Homo sapiens: one gene and its partners. The protein of the gene in region 2 interacts with the protein of the main gene of each other region in a pairwise test. Each region holds a gene or a part of one and is shown on either strand. Other genes may lie near its edges. The genes, in order: AIF1L, PROM1, TMEM230 and CXCL14.

Region 1 (7,030 bases), on a different chromosome or scaffold from region 2:
TGGGCATGGTGGCTCACACCTATAATCCTAGCACTTTGGGAGGCCGAGGCAGGCAGATCACTTGAGCCCAGGAGTTTAAGACCAGCCTGGGCAACAGAGGGAGACCCCATCTCTACAAAAAATACAAACATTAGCTGGGTGTGGTGGCATACACCCGTAGTTCTAGCTGCTCTGGAGGGCTGAGGTGGGAGGATTGTTTGAGCCCAGGCAGGTCGAGGCTGCAGTGAGCTGTGATCGTGCCAACAAAGAATAAATAGGGTCGGCCGCATTGAGAAGGTGACATTCGGCCGCATTGAGAAGGTGACATTGAGGCTGGGTGTGGTGGCTCACGCCTGTGATGCCAGGAATTTGGGAGGCCGAGGCAGTCGGATCACCTGAGGTCAGGAATTTGAGACCGAACTGCTCCATATGGTGAAACCGCATCTCTACTAAAACAAAAATTAGCTGGACGTGTTGGTGCGCACCTGTAGTCCCAGCTACTGGGGAGGCTGAGGCAGGAGAATTGCTTGAACTCGGGAGGGGGAAGTTGCAGTGAGCTGAGATCGCGCCACTGCACTCCAGCCTGGCGACAGAGTGAGACTCCGTCCCAAAAAACAAAAATAAAACAAAACAAAAAAGACAAGGTGACATTGAGCAAAGGCTTGAAGTTGGTGAGGGAGAGAACCACGCAGATCTGTGGACTCCAGGCAGGGTGCACAGCTAGTGCAGGGTGCAGCCCAGGGCAATCTTCCCAACCACTGCTGCCGTTCATGCTGTGCACGTGGCCTTGCTCTTCATCCCTGCCTGGTTGGTCTGTGTCTGTCTGTGTGCAATTTGTCTCTAAGGCCAGGGACCATGTCCTTCCACTTGCACCCATCCACCTACAGAGTGGCCCAAGTAAAACTGGATCTCTAGGGCTGGTCGGTCCAGGCTGAGGCAGGATTTCTGGTCAACCAGACCCCAGGGGCTGGGACAGCCCCTCCAAATCTCTCCCCAGAGGTTCCCAGATGTTGGTGCTCTTGTGCCTCCCCAGGAAGGTTCTCTAGTTCTTGGTAAAGTGAAGGAAATGCAGGGTCACTGTGGTGAGTTGGACCTAGGCTGAATGGATTCCATTTAAACATTCAGAGATGGTGAACTTCCTACTTTTATGAAATGTTCTTTTCTGAACTCATGGCAACAGTCAATGGCCATTGTTTAAAAAGTCTTTACTTGGCAAAATAAAAAGTTGGCACTCGTATATTAGTGCGCCCCTCTGCCCCGCCTTTAAAAATGTTTCATGTCTGCGTGACCCCAAAGTCTGGGAATCACTGATCTAATATGTCCCTTCACTGGGCAGATATGGGATCTGGGACCCTGGGAGGTGCCTGGTTTGCTCACAGTCACAGACAAAAGTTAATTGTCCTCCTTTTGGGCAGAGGATGGGGTGAGGGAGCAGTGCCGAAGAGCTATGAGAGGGAGCCAAGAGGAAAGGAAGTCCTCGACAGAGCCAACTAGGAGGAGGGCGGCCTCCCAGGCTGCCGAAGAAGGATCCAGCGTCAGCTAAGTGGAGGCGGGGCCGTGCCCAGTGCATTGCAATGAGGCCTGGAGTGAGGCTGTGGCCAAGCCAGCAAGACCCCATAGGCCCTGGGACTGCCCTCTGCCCAGGTGCAGGAGGACACAGGTCCTGGAGTCAGATAGACCCAGGTTCGAAACCAACCTTCCTTAGCTGTCTGTGAACCTTTTTTTTTTTTTTTTTTTTTTTGAGATGGAGTCTGTGGCCCGGGCTGGAATGCAGTGGCACAATCTCGGCTCCCGGCAACCTCCACTTCCCAGGTGCAAGTGATTCTCCTGCCTCAGCCTCCCAAGTAGCTGGGATTACAGGCACACGCCCCCATGCCCGGCTAATTTTTGGACTTTTAGTAGAGACAGGGTTTCACCATGTTGGCCAGGCTGTTCTTGAGCTCCTGACCTCAAGGGATTTGCTCACCTCGGCCTCCCAAAGTGCTGGGATTACAGACGTGAGCCACTCACTGCGTTTGGCCTGTCTATGGACTTTAGATGTGGTATTTAACCCCTCTCATCCTCATGTTTTAACTTGTAAAATGGGAATAATAGTGGCTGTGAGGATTTAGTGAGATAGCACAGTGTCTGCTACAGCCAATGTTTTACCAAAAGCTACAGGACAGCCAGACCCCTCTCCCAACCCAGTGAGGGAAGCCCTGTTGCCAGGTAGGTTTCTCCTGTGGTCAAGGGGTGCTGAGTTAATGTGGAGAAATTTGAGCCATAGAAGAGGCCATATTCTGCCTCATACTCATAATCTTATCTGTTGCTCATTGAGAGCTGAACTATGAGCCCAGTGCCCAAGGAGTGGGTACTATTGAACCTATTTTAGAGCTAGTAAAAAGGGAGACTGAGATCCAAACCCAGATTGCTTTATAGTCAGTTAGTTCTTGTCATCCTCTATTCTGCTTGAAGCCTCTTAGGAGTTTGCAACAATAGACTAGGAAGGTAGTGAGTTCTCTGTCCTAAGAGATATGTAAGAACAGACTTGGCCATCATGTATTAGGAAGTAGGTCAAGTGATTAATGTGGGTGACATTGCACATCATTTTAAACACCAGCTTTCTGTAATTTCAGGATAAGGACCTTGTCATATTCACCATGGTCTCCTCTGCTCCCTTGATGCTAGCACAGTGAGTGCTGTGTGCACTGTGTCCCCCCAGAATGTTGAATGAGTGAATGAATGAATGAATGAATGAATGAAGGAGCAATGTCCATGTCCAGTGAGCTCAGTAATGAAGAATGGAAGGTCCACTGGCCGGGCTCAGTGGCTCACACCTGTAATCCCAGCACTTTGGGAGGTCGAGGTGGGCGGATCACATGAGGCCAGGAGTTCAAGACCAGCCTGGCCAACATGGTAAAATCCCGTCTCTACTAAAAATACAAAAATTAGCCGAGCATGGTGGCACACTCCTGTAGTCCCAGCTACTTGGGAGGCTGAGGCACAAGAATCATTTGAACCTGAGAGGCAGAGGTTGCAGTGAGCCAACATTGCGCCACTGGACTCCAGCCTGGGTGACAAGAGCGAGACTCCGTCTCAAAAAAACAAAAACAAAAACAAAAAAAGAATGGAAGCTCCAAAGAAGAGGGGTTATTTGCAGAGTTCGAGTGGTAGGAGGGGAACAGGCCCTGTGCTTCCCCATCTGAATACAGGTTCCAGGGCTGCTGAAAGATTAGCCGCAAGATACATAAGTTACCTGGCACTGTATCTGGCAGGTGTTCCCTCATTGGTCGCTTTTTGCTGTAAGGTCAGAGACCAGGCCAGATGAACACCTGCAATCTGCCCACCTTTAAAGAATGTAGGGGCTAAGGATGCAGGCTCCAAATGAGATGGAGCCGAGTTGAAGCTCTGGCTTATGAGCCTCAGTTTCCTCACCTGCAAAATGGGTATAATAATAGTAGCTACTGGCCGGGCGCCGTGGCTCACACCTGTAATCCCAGCACTTTGGGAGGCCGAGGCGGGCAGATCACTTGAGTCCAGGAGTTTGGGACCAGCCTGGGCAACAGAGTGAAACCCTGTCTCTACAAAAAATACAAAAATAAGCCAGCCGTGGTGTGGCGCCCATCTGTAGTCCCAGCTACTCAGGAGGCTGAGGTGGGAGGATCACTTGAGATCGGGAGGCGGAGGTTACAGTGAGCTGAGATTGCATCACTGCATTCCAGCCTGGATGACAGAGCAAGACCCTGTTTCAAAATAATAATAACAATAGCTCCCTCTTGGGACTCCTAGGAGATGTGAAGAGATCACATAGGTAAGGGCTTCACCCTGGAGGCCATTGTTAGTGTCCAATCCTCCCCACCCTGCCCATCTGGTCCTGAAAGGACTCATTTGAGTCTCTCCAAGCATCTGAAGGGAAGGCAGGCCAGAGATTAAAACCCCCATTTTACAGGTGAGGAAACAGGTGAGAGGGTAAGTGTACAGTCATTTTCCCGTTAGAGCAGAGACGACGAATTCACACTCTCACTGGATTTCTTTTTTCTTTTCTTTTTTTTTTTTTTTTAAGATGGAGTCTCTCTCTGTCTCCCAGGCTGGAGTACAGTGGCATGATCTCAGCTCACTGCAACCTCCACCTCCCAGGTTTAAGCTATTCTCCTGCCTCAGCCTCCCAAGTAGCTGGGATCACAGGTGCCCACCTCTATGCCCAACTAATTTTTGTATTTTTATAGAGACGGGGTTTCACTATGTTGGCCAGGCTGGTCTCGAGCCCCTGACCTCAGGTGATCGGCCCACCTTGGCCTCCCAAAATGCTGGGATTACAGGCGTGAACCGCCGCACCTGGCCTCACTGGATTTCTATACAAACTCAAGAAGCAGATCATGATTCTCATTTGGTAGATAAGGCAATAGAAGTGTGGGGAGGGCCGGGCGCGGTGGCTCACACCTGTAATCCCAGCACTTTGGGAGTCTGAGGCGGAGGGGTGGGAGCGGGGGGATCAACTGAGGTCAGGAGTTCGAGACCAGCCTGGCCAACATGGTGAAACCCCGTCTCTACTAAAAATACAAAAATTAGCTGGGCATGGTGGCAGGCGCCTGTAATCCCAGCTACTGGGGAGGCTGAGGCAGGAGAATCGCTTGAACCCAGGAGGTGGAGGTTGCAGTGAGCTGAGATCGCGCCATTGCACACCAGCCTGGGGGACAAGAGCAAGACTTCTTAAAAAAAAAAAAAAAAAAGTGCACGGAGGAATGAATGAGCTCAGGATCACATTCCTAAGAAGTTAATGATGGAACCAGGGGCTTGTCTTTGGAGCTCACAGCTTCTCGGATCTGAAGCTGGGGTGTCTTGGGGGAGGGGCACGGGTCCCAGCATTGGTAATGTAGCTGCTGGCTGGAGGGCTTAGTCACCCGTAGTGAACCCTCTGGGGCCTCCCCAAGCTGCTGGGCAAACTTCCTACCCACAGGGTGGCCAGTGCAGATCTGCCTCCAAGGGGCGACAGGAAGCCGGGGTGAACAAGGGACAAACTGGGTCTGGTCGCACCTGGTTACCCGATAGGAGGGAAGGCCCCCGGACAGTGGGCCCATGTGTGGGTGACTTCTGTCCCCAGTCCCTTGCTCAGCACTGTCCTCTCACCTCTGTAGGAGTTTCTGTGTGACCAGAAGTACAGTGATGAAGAGAACCTTCCAGAAAAGCTCACAGCCTTCAAAGGTAAGCTGGGGCGGGCTGCCCTGCATTTATTCCTGGGGGAGGTGGGCTGGCCCCTCATCCTTGCACACAGGACCCCTCAGCCCCACAGGACTAGGCTGTGGCCCTGTTTTGTCCAGAATGCCCTTCTTCCTGGAGAAGGCTTGGAGACAGGGACCCCCTGAGAGGTGGGGAGAGGCCCCTCCACCTGCCTCCCTGCCCCTGCGGGCCCCGTCACCCCTCGCCTGCAGCCCGGTCCTGGCCCTGCCCCTCTCTCTCCCCTCACTGCCCACGGGGCTCAGGCTGGTTCCCGTCCGCCGCTGCCCAGGCCCCGTCACTCCCGGGCCCCGCACACAATCAGCTCTTTGTGAGCAAGCCTTGCCTCTCCCCCTCCCCAGCAGAGCGTCTCAGGAGCCCCTGCGGAGAATGGACGTTTGTGTCACCGCAGTGGGGCAGGGGGGCAGAGTTTCTGCCCATTGAAACCCGGCAGCACGGGATGAAAAGAAAGCAGGGCCTGGGAGCCGGCGCGGGGAGAGGGGCAGCATAAAGGTCCCTCTGTTTGGGGCCCTGGCGCTTGGTTCCCAGCCAGCACCTCGAAAGGAGAGGAGCCGGGCACATAGGGGGCAGCGCAGACCCACCTTCCCTGCCAGGGGAGGCACTTAGGCGCAGGAGCCCTGGGCTGTCATGGAAAATATCCTGGAGGTTGCATTCCCCTCCAAAGTGTTTGCAGTGTGAGCATCCTCCCGGCTCCAGGGCAAAGAACTTGGCCAAGTGTTCCTCAAATCACTTCCAGTTGTCCTTAGGCTGGACATCTAGGGCTAATCATATTAATAACAGCTGGCATTTGTTGGACGTCGGCCTGTGTGAAGCACTTCTCGTGCGGCGTGGCGAGCTCCCCACATCACCCCAATCGGCCTGGAGGAAGATGGCGCACTTGTTAATGTGCAGATGGAGAAACTCGGGCTTGGAGGGCGGGGTTGTTGGCATGGGGACACATAGCTCGCCTAGGGCAGAGTTGGGACTTGAACTCATGTCGGTCTGGCTCCAAAGCCCCTGCTCTCAACTGTTACGCTATGATGCTTTTTACATGAAGAAGAGAGAAGGGAAATAGTAAAAGACACTCCTGACCCCACCCCATCCCAGCCACCTGTAGGAGAGCTGTGAAAAAGAGAGCAGTCTATTCCCTTCTGTCTGCATACCAGCGTGGCCACTCCCAGGGGTGGCTCTGGGAGGAGGCACGGGTCTCAGGGCTCTGGCACCCTTTCTACTTGTCTTCACTGGAATGTTGGGCCAGACAGGAAGTTACATCATTCACTCATTTGTTCTCCAAATGCGCACCTGTACATGTGCCAGGACCATTCCAGGCCAGGGGCACCATGGTGAACGTAAAAGGCAGCTCCCACCCGGGAGCCTGTGTTCTCGCTCGGGGGGCGGTGTGAGAGGTGGTGGGAGACTAAACAGAGAGCCGGGAAATACAAGGTTAGCAGACTGTGGTAGGTGCTTCAGTGAGAAATGAGGGAGGGAGGACAGGAGTGCTCAGCTGTGGGGAGGGGGTGCAATTTTGAAAGGGTGGGGAGGCCAGGCACGGTGGCTCACACCTGTAATCCCAGCACTTTGGGAGGCCGAGGTGGGTGGATCACCTGAGGTCGGGAGTCCAAGACCAGCCCGGCCAACATGGCGAAACCCCATCTCTATTAAAAATACAAAAATTAGCTGTATGTGGTGGTGGGTGCCTGTAATGCCAGCTACTCGGGAGGCTGAGACAGGAGGATTGCTTGAACCCAGGAGGCAGAGGTTGCAGTGAGCTGAGATCAAGCCACTGCACTCAAGCCTTGGTGACAGAATGAGACTCCATCTCAAAAAAAAAAAAAAAAAAAAAAAGCATAATGGTTAA
Region 2 (7,030 bases):
TCCACACATGGCAATATGTTAGAATCTAGCCATCACATTTGATAGAGTTTTGATAGAAATGCATCCAATGGGAACAAACACCCCATATGTTGTAGTGTCTAAATAGAAACTCAGTGTAAAAAAGTAAAAAACAAAAATAGACAGGAAGGGAGGGAGTCATCCTTGAATAGTGATGGACCATGGACTATAACGTGATTGTGTTCATTCTTAAAGCACTACCCAGAGACCAATGGTGCCGTTGCCTTGGTGCCCGCCTGAGTCACTACGTTGCCACTGGCGTTGCTCCTGGATTTGGAAAGTCCTTGTAGACCCAGAAACTACCAAAAATCTGTGATCCTTTCCACTTTGAGTATCCTGATGCTGAAATGAAAGTTAAACACAATTTTAGAAATTGCTTTTGAATTAATAAAGAGAAAACCAGGAATGCATAATCCTAAAATGGTCCCCACCAGGAGCCTAAGAACTAAGGAAAATATAAACTCGTTCAAGAGGCACAGCAATATGTTTGTTGCAAAGCAATCTGTTAAAATATAGCAATATAGAAAAAAACTTTGTGGTTTTTGTTTATTTATCTTATTTTATTTATTTATTTTTTTGAGAGGGAGTCTCACTCTGTCGCCCAGGCTGGAGTGCAATGGCGCGATCTCAGCTCACTGCAACCTCCGTCTCCCGGGTTTAAGCCTCAGCCTCCCAAGTAGCTGGGACTACAGGCACCTGCCACCATGCCTGGCTAATTTTTATATTTTTTAGTAGAGATGGGGTTTCTCCATGTTGGCCAGGCTGGTCTCGAACTCCTAACCCCAAGTGATCTGCCCACCTCAGCTTCCCAAAGTGCTGGGATTACAGGCATGAGCTACCATGCCCAGCCAGAAAAAATTTTAAGTCCATAATACTCAAGGTACGTGGTTGGTACACAGATTTCTATATTTTTGTTTGTTTGTTTGTTTGTTTAGAGATAGGGTTTCACTACATTTTCCAAGTTGGAGTGCATGAGTGTGTTGGCTATTCACAGGTATAATCATGGTTCACTGCATCTTTGAACTCCTGGGCTCAAGCAATCCTTCTACCACAGCCTCCCACCCCAGTAGCTGGGACTACAGGCAGGTACCACCATGCCTGGCTTATTGTTTTACTCTAAAAAAACACTTTCTTTTCTTTTCTTTTTTTTTTTTTTTGTGATGGAGTCTCACTCTGTTGCCCACGCTGGAGTGCAGTGGTGTGATCTCGGCTCACTGCAACCTCTGCCTCCCAGGTTGAAGCGATTCTCCTGCCTTGGCCTCCTGAGTAGCTGAGATTACAGGCAGGATTACAGGGGCCCCCCACCACACCCGGCTAACTTTTTTTAGTAGAGACAGGGTTTCACCATGTTGGCCAGGCTGGTTTTGAGCTCCTGACCTCAAGTGATCTGCCCGCCTCGGCCTCCCATAGTGCTGGGATTACAGGCGTGAGCCACCGCACCAGCCCTTATTTTTTTACTTAAAAAATCTTATCTTTTTAAGTAAAAAAATTTTATTTTTTTAATATACACCCACATACTCACTGTGTGTGTGTATATATATATATAAATACACACACATTTATATAGCAATGCATATATATACAGAGAGGGTCACTGTATCGTATGTATACATGCAGTCGTCCCTCTGGATCCATGTGGGATTGGTTCCAGGACCGCTACACACATCCTCCTACATACTGTATATCATCTCTAGATCACTCAAAATACCTAATACAATGTAAGTGTTATGTAAGTAGCTGTTATACTGTATTGTTTTTATTATTTTTATTTTTGTACTGTTATTTAAAAAAAAATTTTTTTAGAGTATTTTTGATCCACAGTTGGTTGAATCAATCGGTGGATGTGGAACCTGCAGGTACAGAGGGTGGACTGGACATATAAAATATCTTGTCTAATATGCTGATCTAGATTTCCCACTTAATGTGGCAATGTATTAGGAATAGCTATGTTTTGATGTTCTAAAAACTAAAAACTATAGTCCTGTAGATTCTCTTCAATGAAAGCATCAAACTTACCTCAAGCAGTTTCAACATCAGCTATCAATGTTGTGATGGGCTAAAAAACAAAAAAATAAAGAAATATAATACCCCCAACAAAGCTGTGGGTGGTTTCATCACCTCTGTGCTAAGAAGCAGGCATGTGACTAAAGGTACAGACGAATATAAACCACACCTCATAAAGTTTATCAAGAAGAATGTGTCAGACAAAACACTGGTTACTCTAGCTTCTGTTTGTATTGCTTTTAAAAACAGCATAGAAGATAAAGAGGATAAACAGACTATGACAAGTAAGAATTGTGAATATTCACAATCTAAGGTTAAAAGTGTTAAGAGTCACTAAGAATACGTGTTGAAGACATTAGACCAGCAGCAACACAGCAGTACACATGTCTACCACAAGAGTCTTTCTAAAGTCCACTTCTAGGACAGAAGACAGAAGCAAATGGAAGTTCCGCAGGGACCTTGTTACAACTACAAATTCCTGGGTGTAAGATCAGGCAGTGCACACGGCCTCTAAGTGGCTCTCTGGGTGAACCATCAACAGTAGCCCTAGTGTCCTCTAAAGTGACTCTGTGATAATGGCCTTGACAACCAAAAAGGTATACGCCAGGGGGAGACTAGTGAACTCCATCTGGAAGGTCGGCAGTTTCAACTCTGGCACACCCTGCCCGACTGTGACTTCAGGTGGATCACAACCCCTCTGAACCTGCAGGATCCACCGTGCCTCACTGCAGTGCTGCATCAGACACATGAGGTTGGGGGAGGACATGCACGGAGGACATCAGGGCATCTGCCAGGCAAGACATTCCTTCTAAAGTTTTTCACTTTAGAAAGTGCACATGCTTGGTTCTGTGTGCCTCTTCTTGCACTACCTTTTATGCTTTCGGTAAAGAAACAAACTCTTTATCGAAAGGGCTCAAAGGGCCCCTGGAAAAGGGTGCAAGCAGGGGCTGGCTCAATCTCTTGTTACTGTCCACCTCACCAGGACCTGGAGCTGAACATTATGAAGGACTGTAGGCTCTGGCAATCATTTCCAAAGAACATCTACATTTGCCTTATTGAGCAGAGGGATGCTGGGCACACTAACAGGATCACTGGTTCTTCTCCTCCTGCCTAGCATTGCCTCTCCTCCAGACAGTATATCCATCCTATCCTGGAAGAGAGGGAACTCTGGAGACCTCAGAAGCAGGAAATGAGCAAAACAAGCCAATTTAAGCAGTGTCTTAGTATGTTTTCTGCTGCTATAACAGAATATCAGAGACTGGGTAACTTACAAAGAAAAAAATATGTTTTTCACAGTTCTGAAGGCCACGAAGTCCAAGAACCTGGTGCTGGCATCTGGTGAGGGCTTTCATGACGCATCATCCCATAATGGAAGGGCAAATGAGTGCAAGAGACAGACAGGGAATGGGGTCGAGCTTCCTCCTTTTATCAGGAGCCCACTCCCATGATAATGGCATTAATCCATTTATGAAGGCAGAACTCTCATGACTTAACCACCTGTCCAAGGTCTCGCCTGTTAATATAGTCACAATGGCAATTAAATCTCAACATGAGTTTTGGAGGGGACACTGAAACTATAGCAAGTAACTAAAACTAATCCTGGAAGCTCCTGATGTAAGAGAAACAAAGGGCCTTAGGTGAGACCATAACTGGAGGATACATTTCTTCAGGCCATTAGGATTTGGGCTCTGAATGATAACTTCCTGGGTGCCCAACACAATAAAGCAATAAAATAAAGAAGGCCAATACATGACATCTGAGACTCTCCTGTCTCCAGAGTAGACATCACACACTGATGACAGTACTTTTGAGTCAGTCTGGATTAAACCTCCAGATTTCAATCAACACAACACAACAGGGCTCTGAGCAGCCGGACAACAGAGAGAAGTTGGCCCAGGAGGTGGAATCTGTTTGTCAATGATGCACTATCCCCTTCACAGAAAAAGGAAGGTCCTGGCCCCCGAAGAACCTGAAACATCACACAAGGGAAGGGGCTCCAAGCACCCTCTACAAGACCTATGCAGCCAGAACCTACACAGGTGAGGGTCAGCTGCTGTTTATGTAGCATTCCCCGGGATCCACCTGCTTCCTCCTCTAGGCTGCAGAGGTGCAGCCATGCGGACCCCTCCTACTTCTATCTAAGAATCTGGCCAAGCGCAGTGGCTCATGCCTGTAATCTAGCAATTTGGGTAGATCACTTGACGTCAGGAGTTCAAGACCAGCCTGGCCAATATAGTGAAACTCCATCTCTACTAATAACAGAAAAATTAGCTGAGCACGGTGGTGTGTGCCTGTAATCCCAGCTACTCAGGAGGCTGAAGCACAAGAATCGCTTGAACCCAGGAGGTGGAGGTTGCAGTGAGCTGAGATCACACCACTGCATTCCAGCCTGTGTGACAGAGTGGAATCTGTGTCTCAAACAACAACAACAGCAAAGAATCTACAGAGCATGCACAATGAACACCATCTACAGCCGAACTAGCAAGAAGGTGGTTCACAGACATATTTTGTTGGGCCCCCATGGTGTTTTTTTCTCCACATTGTTTGCTAACATTAAAAAGGGTAATTTCATATGAAAATCAGATTTCTGTCCTTTTCAGATAGAGTTTCTAGCAACACTTGCCTCTTATTTGTTCCCCTTTCTGCCAATTTGATAGTCTTCAGAGTGAAGACTGGGAAAAATAATCAAATTTTTCTGTGGTCTTTCCACCCGTTTTGGGAACTTTTCTTTGCCCACCTGCCTTTGGGAGAATAGGAGAAATAGCTCAAATCATAGCTTGGCCCTGGCTAGCTGTAGAGACCTGGGCATGGCCTACACGTCCCTGAGTCTATCTGCAAAAGACAGACAACAAGGCGGTGACGACAGCCATAGAGGGCCGATGTGGGGACTGCGCAGGATGAGGCAGGGTGGTCATCCTGCCCGGTTCCTGGGGCTGCTGGACCAACACTGGTGTTTGTTTGCTCTCAAGCCTTTGTGGTCTCACAGGAAGCAACTTTCTCTCCTGATCTCTCATCTCAGAGCTAGAAAGAGTAAGTTTACACACACACATACAGACACACACACACAGACACACACACTCTCTCTCTTTCTCTCTCTCTCTCTCTCTCTCTCTAAAGAACTCCCTAGCAGCTGAAAGATCACAATCCGAGTGACCTCTAGTGATCCATGAAAGGCCAGGAAGAAGATTCAGAAACAAGTCACCCAATATTTCCTGAAATGAAAATGCCTCCACTTGCTCCGCAGACTGTGGGAGACAGAAGCATCGTTGGAAAAAAAAAATCCAGGCTTACGTAGGTTTATATGAAAGTCTATTAACTTTTCCTTCAAACAAAAGCAAACAGCCACAGACTGTATAATGGACTAATTACAGTGTGCGTGTGTGTGTTTAAGAAATAAATAGAAATAAAAGAAAAAGAGACCAAAAAAAACTAGTTTATGAAACTGAGTTTGCCACTCAGAAGCAGCCCACTTCATGGTTCTTATTTAAGAGAATTCTCCTGGGAAACGCTCCATGAAGCAATATTAGTTGTCAAACTGCTCCTCACTTGGTAAGTACTAGTGTCCTGGTTTGCAGAAGGCTTTTCTTTTGTTCTTACATTAAATAATTTTTTTTTTCATTTATAAACACAGGGTCTTGTTGTGTTGCCCAGGCTGGTTTTGAACTCCTGGGCTCAAGTGATCCTCTGTCCTCAGCCTCCCAAGGTGCTGGGATTAAAGGCGTGAGCCACCGCATCAGCCAGAGTCTTTTCTAGAATAGCCTAGCACCTTCTCTTTGCACTGATCATTTTCCTCCTAAACCTAGCTTTGTCCTGAAATGCAGGCAACACCTGAAAACTGTTGGCGATAAACACTGGGGGAAATCACAGTCTCAAGCTGTGTGAAGGAGGCACCAATTCGGGCTCATTTGTACAGAAGGTATCATGAGGTGTCGGCTAATATCCAGAGCCCAGTTGGTGTCATCAATGGAAGCTAAGTGGAGCTGGCTCAGCTAACAGATTAGAGCCACACTTAGTTATCTTCTGAATCACCTTTGGGTTCCTTCCATTGGAAATGTTAAGGTAATAAGAAAAGATTATGGTCATTATAGTGAACCACAAACCCTTAAGTAAGGGTTTACAGTGGTCAAAGGGTGAATGTTTTGCCTTGTTACCTCATTGAACCCTCACAACCCTACGCAAACAAGGCTCTTATTTTTATTTATTTATTGAGACGGAGTCTCACTCTGTCGTCCTGGATGGAGTGCGGTGGTGCAATCTCAGCTCACTGCAACCTCCGCCTCCCGGGTTCAAGCGATTCTCCTGCCTCAGCCTCCCAAGTAGCTGGGATTACAGGTGCCCGCCACTACGCCCAGCTAATTTTTTGTATTTTTAGTAGAGATGAGGTTTCACCATGTTGGCCAGGCTGGTCTCAAACTCCTGACCTTGTGATTTGCCTGCCTTGGCCTCCCAAAGTGCTGGGATTACAGGCGTGAGCCACCACACCCAGCCTCAAAGCTCTTATTATTCCCTCCTTCTACAAGTGAGAAAACTGAGTCTCAAGGACATTAAATAGCACTTCCACAATGACACATGGAGGCAGAGCTAGAATCCACTCCAACTCAGACCCCTGGGACCTCTAGGAGGGTCTGGGTGGAAAAGAAAGGTGTCCCAATGTCCCTAGAGTTTCTGGGATGTCATTTCCTAACCTTCTGCAAATAAACCAAATCAAAACTATGATTCTTCACTGACTGCCTGTAGACGGGCTGAACATCCAGGAGACTTGCCAGGGTTCCCACTGGAGGTGGGTGTGCAGGAATGAAAACAAGTCTCGATTTAATTGTTACCATGAAAGATGCTTCAGCGAAACTCACATAAGGTGTCACTCAGTCTTTGGGATTCTTCTCTTACTGAAACAAAACACTTCAACCCACCCTTGGAGTTCTACTATAGAACACAGAATATAGAAAGTAGAAAAAAATTCAAGTGTGCTGTGGACCGTTAAGGAAGGACGTCCAACATTAGTATATCC
Region 3 (7,030 bases), on a different chromosome or scaffold from region 2:
GTGTGACAAAGCAAGACACCGTCTCCAAAAAATACAAACAAACAACAACAACAAAAAAACCCCACAAATTTACGGCAAGAAACTTTACAGATCTTTTGCATTAAAAGGTTGATCTCTATCAAGGGGAAATAGGCAAAATGCTGATGTGAGTGTATTCCATTCTCTGCCCTCTTCTCCCTCCCTGTCAAACAAGAGAATCATTTGAGTATATGCTCCTCTTGCTTTTTCTTAAGAGCGGGAGCAGGGGACAGGCAATGCTGTGGTGTCAGGTGGACCTAGATTTAAGTCCCCATTATTCTACCTAGTCTCTATGTGACTTTGGAAAAATTAAAAGTCAGGGAATCTTGGTGGCAAAATAAACTGGAATGTGATTCTTGGTGAGTGTCTTCACTGTCATTCTACAAGGACAGACCAGACTAGATATTTAATACATAGTGAGAATCTTTTCACTGTGTCAGAGGCATATCTGGTTTTCCATATGCATATGCCTCTGACACAATGAAAATTTAGCAGTGAAGTGTAAATTGCCCATTGCTAGTCTGACATGGCAGCCCAGAACTCCAGTGCACAGCATCTAATAATCCTGAACTCATTGGCTATAATGCACCATTGTCATCTACAGACAATAACGGGTTTTTTGTTTTTAAACTGTAGCTGTGTCAGCGTGTTATGATGCCGTCCCGTACCAACCTGGCTACTGGAATCCCCAGTAGTAAAGTGAAATATTCAAGGCTCTCCAGCACAGACGATGGCTACATTGACCTTCAGGTAAATGCAGAAGAGAACTGACAAGACTGACTGGCTGTGTTTCTGTTAAGTTAGCAGGAAGACCTTCCAGATGGAGATTTTGCTAACTGTCCTTGGGGATTAGAAGGAGCAACAAGAAGAAAACTCAGCTCTGAGACCCTTTCAGCCATAATCGCAGAAGAGGGCCGTGGCAGGGTAGTTTCAAACCAATTCCAGTATTGTCCATTTCTAAGAATTTTTAGTTGTAATGCGAGAGCCTTGTAGTTACAGGTTTTATTTACTTTATTCAGAAACTAATCAGATTGTGTTTTGTTAAGTGGAGTTTTTTGTTGTTGTTTCTTTTTTTAAGGAACTTTAAAATTTTTGTTAGGTGGAATTTTTTTTATCACTGTTTATTTACACTTTAGTCAAAGCCCGTTCACCTTTTAAGGGAGAAACTTATTACTAAAGCCAGCAGATTGTGGGAATCTTCCTTCTTTCCTGATGTCATGAGATCCAATTTATTAAAGGTATTCTTTGTGATAAATAGTAAGTAAAACACAGTATTTATTAAGTTTGTATCCTACCCTAACCATTTATAAACTAGTCAATACTACAGCATCTCCTTTTGCACACTTCCCCTTACAATAGAATGTTCTACGTGGAACTAGGGCCAACGAGGAAGTAGCAGGAAACCATCCTTTATAAATAAATAAATTACTCTTTGGACCCACATTTGAAGGAGAGATAAAAATAGATCTGGAAAGATCTGGGAAGCTTCCAGCCACTTAGGTCAGATACAACGATGAGCCAAACCTTGGAAAATTTGTCTCTGAATCTTAACCTTGAATTGAATTTGTTCATAAGGCAGGTTTACTTGCTATGTGGAACAAACAACTAATCATTTGGAATAAGCTGAAATTGCCTTCTTTTCCTTTTTTTTTTTTTTTTTTGGAGACGGAGTTTTAGTCTTGTTTCCCAGGCTGGAGTGCAGTGGCACAACCTCGGCTCACTGCAACCTCTGCCTCCCAGGTTCAAGCGATTCTCCTGCCTCAGCCTCCCAAGTAGCTGGGATTACGGGCATGCGCCACCACGCCCAGCTAATTTTGTATTTTTAGTAGAGACAGTGTTTCTCCATGTTGGTCAGGCTGGTCTTGAACTCCTGACCTCAGGTGATCATCCTGCCTCGGCCTCGCAAAGTGCTGGGATTATAGGCGTGAGCCACCTTGCCCAGCCTCTTGTTTTGTTTTGTTTTGTTTTTAAGATGTAGTCTTGCTCTGTTGCCCAGGCTGGACTGCAGTGGTGCAATCCTGGCTCACTGCAACCTCCCCCTCCTGGTTCAAGTGATTCTTGTACCTCAGCCTCCCTAGTAGCTGGGGGATTACAGGCATGCACCACCATGCCTGGCCAATTTTCGTATTTTTAGTATAGATGGGGTTTCGCCATGTTGGCCAGGCTGGTCTCGAACTCTTAACCTCCAGTGATTCACCCACTTCGGCCTCCCAAAGCGCTGGAATTACAGGCGTGAGTCACCGCGCCCAGCCTTTTTTTTTTTTTTTTGAGACAGGGTCTTGCTCTTTTGCCCAGGCTTGGGTACAGTGGCACAATCAAGACTCACTGTAACCTTGACCTTCTGGGCTCAAGTAGTCTTTTCACCTCAGCCTCCTGAATAGCTGGGACCACAAGCATGTGCCACCACACCCAGCTAATTTTAAAATTTTTTGTAGAGACAGGATCTCTTAAATCCCCATAAGTTAGTACAGCCATCTATGTGCCAGGCAGTTAATAAATATATATCTAACAAATGAATGACTGTAAAGTCATTTCTGTTTTTGTTTTAAAGAAAAGTTTCTTATGATACAATGAATGATTTATGGAATGAGATTCGAACTAGAGTGAATGACATTCCTCTGAGATTCCTTTGAGTAACTGTGAGAGCAATAACTAGAGCTTCATCTCTTGCCAGTCCCTTTTATTTCTCAGAGCTGCACTGGGTGGTAGGACATACTTAAGACACATAAAGTATCTAGTTTGGTTCTTAATTACCCTCCTGTTTTTGCTGTTGTTGTATTTGAAACAGGCTCTGGCTCTGTCACCCAGGCTGGAGTGCAGTGGTGCAATCTCAGCTCGCTGCCTCTTCACCTCCTGGGCTCAAGCCATCCTCCCAGCTTAGCGTCCCAAGTAGCCGGGACTGCAGGCACATGCCACCACGCCCGGCTAATTTTTGTATTTTTTGTAGAGACGAGGTTTCACCATGTTGCTCAGGCTGGTCTCAAACTCCTGAACTCAAGTGATCCGCCTGCCTCAGCCTCCCACATTGCTGGGATTACAGGTGCGAGCTCTCCTCCCTGTTTTAAAGTGTTTGAGACTGGGCTTGATGGCTTATACCTGTAATCCCAGCACTTTGGGAGGCAGAGGTGGAAGGACTCCCTTGAGCCCAGGAGTTGGAGACCACCCTGGGCAACATAGTGAGACCTCGTCTCTACAGAAAAATTTAAAAATTAGCTGGGCATGGTGACGTATACTTGTAGTCCCAGCTACTTGAGAGGATGAGGCAAGAGAATTGCTTGAGCCCAGGAGTTCGAGGCTGCAATGAGCTGTAATTGCACCACTGCACTCCAGCCTGGGTGATAGAGCAAGACTCCGTCTCTAAAATCATAAAAATTAGGCCGGGCGCGGTGGCTCACGCCTGTAATGCCAGCACTTTGGGAGGCCGAGGCGGGCGGATCACCTGAGGTCAGGAGTTCAAGCCCAGCCAGGTCAACAAGGTGAAACCCTGTCTCTACTAAAAATACCAAAAAAATTAGCTGGGTGTAGTGGCGGGCACCTGTAACCCCAGCTGCTCAGGAGGCTGAGACAGGAGAATCACTTGAATCCAGGAGGCAGAGGTTGCAGTGAGCCAAGATCACGCCATTGCTCTCTAGCCTGGGCAACAAGAACGAAACTCCATCTCAAAACAAACAAACAAAAACATAAAAATTACAAATAATTAATTAAATGTTTGAACCCAGGTATTTGCATTAATGTTCTTCGTTGTCTTTTTCATCTCTATTTCTCTTCCAGTTTAAGAAAACCCCTCCTAAGATCCCTTATAAGGCCATCGCACTTGCCACTGTGCTGTTTTTGATTGGCGCCTTTCTCATTATTATAGGCTCCCTCCTGCTGTCAGGCTACATCAGCAAAGGGGTAAGCTGACGGGCATGTGGGAATAAGTTGTGAGATTTTTAAAATGTTAGCCAAGGCTCTAGTGTGCGTGTGTGTGTGTGTGTGTGTGTGTGTGTGTGTGTGTGTGTGTTTGTCCGTCCCAGTGGTCTGTTTTTTTTGAGACAGGGTCTTGCTCTGTCATCCAAGCTAGAGTGCAGTGGCACAACCTTTACCTCCCTGGGCTCAAGCGATCCTCTCACCTCAGCCTCCCGAGTAGCTGGGACTACACGTGTGTGCCACCACACCCAGCTAATTTTATTTTTTATTTACTTATTTTTGTTTGTTTTATTTTGTGTAGAGACAGGGTTTCACTATGTTGCCCAGGCTGATCTCTAACTCCTGAGGTCAAGCAGTCTGCCTGCCTCAGCCTTCCAAAGTGCTGGGATTGCAGGTGTGAACCATTGCCCCTGGCCAATTTTTTTTCCAATTTTTATGGGTACATAGTAGGTGTATATACTTAGGGGATACATGAGGTATTTTGATACAGCCATGCATTCATAATAATCACATCAGGCTAAATGGGGTATCCATCCCCTCAAGCATTCATCATTTGTATTACATTCCAATTATACTTTTATTTATTTATTTATTTTGAGACAGAGTCAGGCTGGAGTGCAGTGGCATAATATCGGCTAACTGCAACCTCCGCCTCCCAGGTTCATGCTATTCTTGTGCCTCAGCCTCCCGAGTAGCTGGAATTACAGACGTGCGCCACCGCACCCGGCTAATGTTGGTATTTTTAGTAGAGATGGGGTTTCGCCATGTTGCCCAGGCTGGCCTCCCAAAGTGTTGGGATTACAGGCATGAACCACTGTGCCTGGCCTATTTTTAGTTATATATATACATATACACATACATACATACATACATATATATATATTTTGGAGACAGAGTCTTGTTCTGTCACCCAGGCTGGAGTGCAGTGGCAGGATCTCAGCTCACTGCAAACTCCGGCTCGTGGGTTCAAGTGATTCTCCTGCCTCAGCCTCCTGAGTTAGCTGGGACTATGGTGGCAAGCCAGCACACTTGGCTTATTTTTGTATTTTTAGTAGAGATGGGTTTTTGCCATGTTGGCCAGGCTGGTCATGAACTCCTGACCTCAAGCGGCCTGCCCGCGTGGGCCTCCTAAAGTGCTGGGATTACAGGCGTGAGCTACCACGTCCAGCCTTAGTTATTATATTTTTAAATGTACAATAAATTATTCTCTAGTCACTTTGTGCTATCAAATACTAGAGCTTATTCATTCTATGTAACTATATTTTGTACCCGTTAACCTTCCCCATTCCCCCCTACCTTTCCCAGCCTTTGGTAACCATCATTCTACAATATCCATGAGTTCAATTGTTTTAATTTTTAGTTCCCGCAAATGAGTGAGAACATGGAAAGTGTGTCTTTCTGTGCCTGGCTTAATTTCACTTAACATAACGTTCTCCAGTTTCATCCATGTTGTTGCAAGTGACAGGATCTCATTCTTTTTAGTGGCTGAATAGTACTCCATTGCATATATGTACCATATTTTCTTTATTCACTTGTCTGTTGAAGAACACTTTGGTTGCTTCCAGATCTTGGCTGTTGTGAATAGTGCTGTCATAAATATGGAAGTGCAGATACCTCTTTGATAAACTGATTTCCTTTCTTTTGGGTATATACCTAGCTGTGATTGCTGGATCATATGGTAGTTCTATTTCATACTGTTCTCCATAGTGGCTATACTAATTTACATTCCCATCAACATTGTACGAGGGTTCCCTTTTCTCCACGTCCTCGCTAGCATTCGTTATTGCCGTTTTTTTTGGATAAAAGCCATTTTGGCTGGGTGCAGTGGCTCACGCCTGTAGTCCCAGCACTTTTGGAGGCCGAGGCAGGAGGATCACTTGAGCCCAGGAGTTCGAGACCAGCCTGCGCAACATAGCGAGACCTTGTGTCTATATTTTTTAAAAAGCCATTTTAACTAGGATGAGATGATATCTCATTGTAGTCTTGATTTGCATTTCTTTGATCAATGATGTTAAGCACCTTTTCATATACCTATTTGCCATTTGTATGTCTTCTTTTGAGAAATGCCCATTTTTGATTGGATTATTAGATTTTTTTTCCTACAGAGTTTGAGCTCCTTATATATTCTGGTTATTAATTCCTTGTCAGATGGATACTTTGCATATATTTTTTCCCATTCTGTGGGTTGTCTCTTCCTTTGCTGTACAGAAGCTTTTTAACCGGATGTGATCTCATTTATCTGTTTTTGTTTTGGTTGCTTGTGCTTTTGGGGGCATTACTCAAGAAATCTTTGCCCAGTCCAGCATCCTGGAGAGTTTCCCCCATGTTTTCTTATAGTAGTTTCATAGTTTTAGGTCTTACATTTAAGTGTTTAATCCATTCTCATTTGATTTTTGTATATGTCAAGAGATTTGAGGGGTCTAGTTTCATTCTTCAGCATATGGATATCCAGTTTTCCTAATACCATTTATTGAAAAGACTGGTTCTTTCCCCAGTGTATGTTTTTTTGTTTTTTGGTTTTTTTGTTTGTTTTTTTTTTTTTGAGACAGAATCTCACTGTGTCATCCAGGCTGGAGTGCAGTGGCACCATCTCGGCTCACTGCAACCTCAGCCTCCCAAATAACTGGGACCACAGGCATGTGCCACCACACTTGGTTAATTTTTTTTTCATTTTTTGTATAGATGAGGTTTTGCCGTGTTGCCCAGGCTGATCTCGAACTCCTAGACTCAAGCAGTCCAGGAGTACAGTGGTGTGATCACAGCTCTCTGCAACCTCAATCTTCAGGGCTCAGTCGATCCTCCCACCTCAGCTTCCCAAGTAGCTGGAGTTACAGGTGTGAGTCACCATACCTAGCTAATTTTTTTGTTTGTTTGGTAGAGATGAGATCTCATTATGTTGCCCAGGCTGGTCTTAAACTCCTAGGCTCAAGCAATCCTCCTGCCTCAGCCTCCCAAAGTGCTGGAATTACAGGCTTTAGCCACTGCACCCCTCTGACTATGTTTCCCGTTGTGTGTTAATTATGGTCAGTGTGAGGCCCACCCTAGCCTCCCAAAGTACTGGGATTACAGGCGTGAGCCACCACACCCGGTGGATGTAGAATTT
Region 4 (5,843 bases), on a different chromosome or scaffold from region 2:
GTAAAATGGAGCTTCAATAGAACCACCCCCGTTGTGGTTGTTACCAGGATTCAAAGAGATAGGGCATGTAAGGCTCCCCGCACAGGGTCTGGCTCACAGTAGGCAATAATTACACCAGTCCTCTATTGTTGCCGTCCTTATGCAGCCCCAGGGAACTTGGAGAGCCCTTGGCTGAGGCATCCAGCCTCTTTGCTGCCCTCTGGTGCTGAGGCTCAGTGTGGTCTTGCGTGGAGGAGGCTGGGATCGTGACCCTCTAGTTCCCTGTGCTCCAACCTGCCTGCTCTGATACACCTGCTGCAGGGGTAGGAATCGTCGGGGAAGGAGCCTTAGCCTCAAGGCCTGGCTTCTTGGCTTCCTGACTGTAATGACAGCTCCACACGTTCCACAGAGGTGATGGTGTTGACAGGTATTTGGGAAATACCAGTTTTCTTTCCCAGCATATTTGTCCTTATTTTTTCAGGACATGGTAAACATTTTATTGTCATCCTAGCTTAATTAAATAGAAAAAAGGTGGCAGTCTAGAATTTTGGTACATTTCAAATATATTTTATTACTTTCCATCTTAGAAAGAATATGAAACCTGCATGCAATGCTAATGGTTTCTGACATGTACATAGCATATAACACAGCAGTACAATGCGGCATATACTGGGGGGCAGTGTGTGGAGGGGGCGTTCTTAAGGGTATATGTACAGAGGAAAGGGCGCATGGTCATCTTAGCTTTCGAAAGAGGACTGCACTGTTTAACATTGAAGAATTACATGGGGAATCACAAATATATTGCTTTAGTACTGCATGTTCTGTTGTGGTGAGGGAAAGAAACATGCTTTGAAGGTTTTCCCTTGTCAACAGAATGTGTGTCTGTAGCTGTGTATTGCGCATGTATTCATATATTTTTAAGTTTTCTCCTAAGGTTTTTGCTGACAGTGTTGGGAACCTCACATGCTTCTGAAGCATTAAATATTGAACCTGTGAACCTTTCAGAAATCCTCAGGTTGGGAAAGACCCCACACCTTCTTTAAGGATCATTTGTCTCGCCATCACAGGATCTTGGAAATGTTTCCTAGGGTGTGTAAAAATTAACCAGGGGGGAATGAAGCACATTTTTCTGGCAACCAAACTTGAGTTCCTCAGAGAACAGATGCAGAGAGACCTGCTCCTGCTTGCCCGGCTACAGGGGCCACTGTGGAGTCACACTGAGGCTGTGACCGGCCATAAGCCCAGGAGAGCCCGTGGCAGCTGTGCCGAGGCGCCAGGACCTCTAAGCGGAAGCTTCCCAAGCTAGGAATGGAGCAACACTGCAATGAAATGTGTCCACCAAGCTCATTGTTCCTCCCGGGCGCTTATAAAGCTCAGATGTATAGTGACGTATGGACAAATACAAAAAAGCATTTTTTAAAAAGGAAAGGCATGAGTTTTCCCCTTTTTGATAAAAAGCAGCCTGTGATGAAGTCTGGAGCACAAGAGAGATGGGTCTCCCATCTGGAAGCCTTTCGCACGCAGCTATAAAATGTAAAAACTGACCGTTGGTAAAAAGTGCTTCATAACAATATATAATTTGTGTCTTATGCCTGTGAGAAAGAAAGGCTTTTTTTTTTTTTTTTTTTTTTTTTTTTTTTTTTTTTTTTTTTAATCTGCAAAGTCCTTTGCACAAGTCTCCCAACTGGTTTGGAGTTTTCCCTTCTGAGGTTTTTCACCCTATTCTTCGTAGACCCTGGGGAGAAAAAACACATGTGTAAGTGGCTCAGGACATGAGGCAGGCCGTTCACAAGATGCTGGCTAAGCGGCTTCATTCACGTCTGGTCTGCAGGGAATGCCCCTGTCCCAGAACTGCAGGAACCCCCAGGAGAAGTGGGAGGGATCCTTCTGAGGATGTGGTCCCGGGGACCATGAAAACTCACACCAGTGTGGCTTTGTCTTTTCTAACCATCTGCAATCTCACTTCTGCAATCTCATTTTGTCCTCAGAGGCCTATGGAACAAACCCGCTTTGCATATGAGGAAACTGAGGCACCACAGACTTAAGATTTGCCCAGTGGCCACCGACTGTTAGTGGCAGGAATGTAGTCTTTCTCTAGCATGGCGGGCTGCTCCCACACCTCCTTGTTTCTTTCCGCGTCTGTACTCAGCCTCTCTATTTAGAGAAAATAGCAAGGGTGGGAGGCATTCCCTTACTTGACTTAGGCTTGTATATTTCTTTGTATTTTGCCCAAATAATGCATGTCCTCCAGAAGAATGCTAGCTCTAGAAGCTGCTTCCTGGAGACAGAAGAGGTGGTTGGTGGGGTGGGGCAGTGGTGCAGGAGGCCTGTGCCCCTCAGTCCCTGCTCCTGGCTGCATTGCCTCATCTCTACTCGTTCCCAGCCCCACCTTCCCCTCACCTCTCAAGCTGTGCCCAGTTAGATATTTTGCTTTCTTCTAGTTCTGCCCCATGGCTGCCCTGGGGCCATACGTTACACTTAGCCTATCACTTTTCTGTCTCGTTCTTGATTTCTGAGTAAGACCACTGAATTATCCATTGAAATAAAATGCCTGACTAGGCTGCTTCCTGTGGTGGCCAGAAGCTCCCTGGAAGCTCTGGTCTCTGAAGTGCACAGAGCTCCTCTGTGTGGCCCCCATGGGCCTGAGCCCACCGTATACCCTTCTACTTCCTCCAACCTAGCTTTGGCATTCTCTTTCTCTCTCTCTCTGTACAAAGAGGACTTCAAACACTTCCTTTATCACTGTTCTATGTTCATTAAGATATTTTCAACTTGTTTCAGGGGAGGGAGGTGGGGAGGGCAGGGACCTCAACACTCTAAGAAAGAGGGGTGAACTAATTTTATAGCAAAGTGAGAGAAGGCCTGGTAGTGAGAGGCTCTCGTTGCTTTTGTTATTGGAATTTTCAGGAAAAAAAAAAGCAGGGCCATGTTTAGACCTGTGGGTGCCTCCTTTTCCAGGCTGCAGCTCAGGTGGAGGGGAGAAGCAAGGTGAGCTAAAGGTTTGAGTATCCCCCAGCAATCAGATCAAGATGCCCTCAGCCTCTTCCATAACCTGCCCATGGGATTAGCCTTCTGCCAGTTTTGATGACACAGGGCCTGGAGGGTGACAGAGTGTGGACTGCGCAGTTCTGGCCTTTGCCACATGAGCTGCCTGGCTTGACCAGAAAGAGGGCTTCATTCCCAGCAGATTTATAGAAAATAATTTATTGCTCTCATCACTTTCTATTTCAAGCAACTGCAGATGAGGCTGTTTTGGAGGCAGCAAAAAAGGCTCAGGTATAGGGGTTGAGCCCGAGTGTCAGCTCTGGGAGAGCTGGTCACAGGGCTGAGCTTGGGGTAGCATGGCTGGGCCAGGTGAGGGGAGGGCAATGCAGGCACCCACTATGGCTGTACCTTCCACCCTGTGAGGGCAGCTGGTGGGGTAGCACCAGGAGGCCTGGTTTGCTGTCCTGGCTTTGCCCTGTGCTCCCAGGCAAGTCACCCCTCTCTTCCATTTAGCCTTGATATCCCCCTCTGCAGCAGGGGTGCTGGCACTAGTTCCTGGGGAAGTCACCTGCATGGTGTGTGCATGCATGCGTGTGTGTGTGTGTGTGTGTGTGTGTGTGTGTGCTTCCTGATCATGCTATGCAGGCAAATGTGTAAACAGACTCTGCGTATCTGAGGAGTGAGACAGGACAGGCTACCTTCGCATGGTACAGGGGAGCTAGGAACTGGATTCTCCCTCCGAGGACAGACATAAGACCCCAGGAAACCAGAGATGGGAAGCCACCTTCTGATTTTAAGGAAACAGTGCCCAGTAAGTACAGGGCTGGTTCAGGGTGCTGGTGGTCTTAACACTGCTGCCCGCCTTGGTTAACAGTGGCTCTGATTTTAAAGAGCCAAACCTGTGGTGCCTTCCAGCACCTGCGAAGGAAGGAGTTTATCAGGTTTCTGGGCAGCAGAGGGAGTGGGGCACCTTGGAGAAGAAAACATGTTTCTGGCAAGGATCATCCTCAGCACCTCATGGTTTTATAGCGCAGTTTTATAGCCAACATACACAGTCACCTAAGTGGTCACATTTCACCCCACTGAAGTCCTCAGAGCTCCCCTGGCAGCCATGCCAGTGCTCACTCTGCCATTTAACAACTTACGTAACTGAAATAAAAAGAGGAATTAAGATTATAATGCAAATATTAGAGTGAGACAGACTTTAGTTTACAAAATGACAAACCTGCCATGCTTGCAAATGGACAAGAGATGGATAGCTAGCTTTGGTAAGTGGTGAGTTCCTTGTCCCTGGGGGTATGTAAGCATTGTCTGAGTATCTGTTTGCTGTGGATGTTGTGGTGGGTGTTCACATATTAGATGGGGCTAGATGACCTGGTGGGGGGGTCCCTTCCCATCCTGAGAGCCACAGCTGGGTCTGGTGGGAAGGAAGGTGAGTAGAGGCGGGGCGTACCTGCGCTTCTCGTTCCAGGCGTTGTACCACTTGATGAAGCGCTTGGTGCTCTGCAGCTTGGGGTGCAGGCAGTGCTCCTGACCTCGGTACCTGGACACGCTCTTGGTGGTGATGCTGAAACGGAGCAGGATGAGGTGGAGGGTTGAGGAGCCTGAATAACATGTTGCCTCTTGTGTGGCCTGTGAGTAGCCCTGGGCTAAGTCAGGGCCCTGAGAGACTGTGGCTTCCTGCCTCCTCTCAAGGGAGCCGACTTGTGTGCTCACTTCCAAGCTGGCTCTTTGGAAGGTTCTGGTTGTCCCCTTATTCTCTGACTCCATGTTAGGGCCTAACCCTGTATGTAGTGAGCAGCCCTCACTTTTCCCCTGGGAGTCCTGAGAGTCTGGGATGGTCTCTCCCACCCCCAACCTCATGCAGTGTGTTGTCTCCAGGGCTCAGGCCTCTTTTGGGGAACAAAGGTCAGAGGACTCCCAGCCTCTCTGAGCCTGGGATCAGGAGGTGGAGAAAGCTAATGCCAGCAAGGTGCACATGCCAAAACCTCTGTCCTTGGATTTGAGGAGCTCATGGCAAGGCTCAGACATGCCCCGCAGACACTCTGATTTCTGTCTCCTCAACCCCAGTTCCCTCTGACCCACCACAGATTGTCCCAGGGCTGGGCATCTCCTGATCCTGAGGCAAAGTCTTGTTGGCCTTGTGGGAGGTCCCAGGTATCTCACCCCTAAGCAGAAGAGTAAGACCTCTCTTCTGCACAGCCTGAAGATCTCAGGCCTCTATCAGCCAATGTCCCAACACCCAGCAGAAGCCTAGCCATGTGGTAGAGAAGCAGGTGTTGTGCAGACTGTAAGGGCCTGGGACTGAATCTCAAATTTGGCTGTGGGACCTTGGGTAACCTCTCTGAATCCAGTTTGGCCATCTGTAAAATGGGTATAATAATAGGACTATCTCACAGGGTTATTGGGATGATTAAAAGATACAATCTTTAGAAAGTACCCAGGACCTGGTAGATGCACAATTAACAGTTACTGTTACTAGTCATTGGTCATGGAAGATGAAGTGGCCAAGGGGAAAGAGTAGCCTTGCTGTGGGGGCTCCAGCCTGGAGGGCGAGGCAAGCCTGCTGCTCAGAACTTCTGAGCACCTCTAGGCCACAGGCATGACAGGAGTTGTGGGGAATAAGAGACCACCTAGGGTATTTGGAAAAGTGCAAGGTGAGAGGTGAGGATGCCACTTCTTGAGGGGTCACAGCCATGCAAGCCATGATGGTAGACTGGGGTGCTGGAATGGGCTTGGAGGGCAAAGGGGGAGACTGGAAGTGAGAGTGGAAAGAGTGAGAAGAGAGGGACAGAGGTCAGCTAGTTCCCCACTGTTAACCAAATGGAAAATGTCATGGCTTATATGGGCTAAGTTCTAGAAGGGACAGGATTCCCATT

The links.
Region 1: the proteins of PROM1 (region 2) and AIF1L interact in a protein complementation assay, tested with the Homo sapiens proteins (one study listed by IntAct).
Region 3: the proteins of PROM1 (region 2) and TMEM230 interact in a protein complementation assay, tested with the Homo sapiens proteins (one study listed by IntAct).
Region 4: the proteins of PROM1 (region 2) and CXCL14 interact in a protein complementation assay, tested with the Homo sapiens proteins (one study listed by IntAct).

The regions. Positions count from the first base shown.
Region 1 is NC_000009.12:131,106,504-131,113,533, forward strand, and holds part of AIF1L (allograft inflammatory factor 1-like), read left to right. Parts: intron 1-5,093; coding exon 5,094-5,160; intron 5,161-7,030. UniProt on the Homo sapiens protein: Actin-binding protein that promotes actin bundling. May neither bind calcium nor depend on calcium for function.
Region 2 is NC_000004.12:15,969,009-15,976,038, forward strand, and holds part of PROM1 (prominin-1 isoform 1 precursor), read right to left. Parts: intron 2,075-7,030; coding exon 2,059-2,074; 3' UTR 2,035-2,058; intron 361-2,034; 3' UTR 1-360. UniProt on the Homo sapiens protein: May play a role in cell differentiation, proliferation and apoptosis. Binds cholesterol in cholesterol-containing plasma membrane microdomains and may play a role in the organization of the apical plasma membrane in epithelial cells.
Region 3 is NC_000020.11:5,103,070-5,110,099, reverse strand, and holds part of TMEM230 (transmembrane protein 230), read left to right. Parts: intron 1-654; coding exon of another isoform or gene 655-669; coding exon 670-768; intron 769-3,789; coding exon 3,790-3,912; intron 3,913-7,030.
Region 4 is NC_000005.10:135,570,155-135,575,997, forward strand, and holds the end of CXCL14 (C-X-C motif chemokine 14 precursor), read right to left. Parts: intron 4,532-5,843; coding exon 4,418-4,531; intron 1,715-4,417; coding exon 1,699-1,714; 3' UTR 525-1,698; downstream 1-524. UniProt on the Homo sapiens protein: Potent chemoattractant for neutrophils, and weaker for dendritic cells. Not chemotactic for T-cells, B-cells, monocytes, natural killer cells or granulocytes. Does not inhibit proliferation of myeloid progenitors in colony formation assays.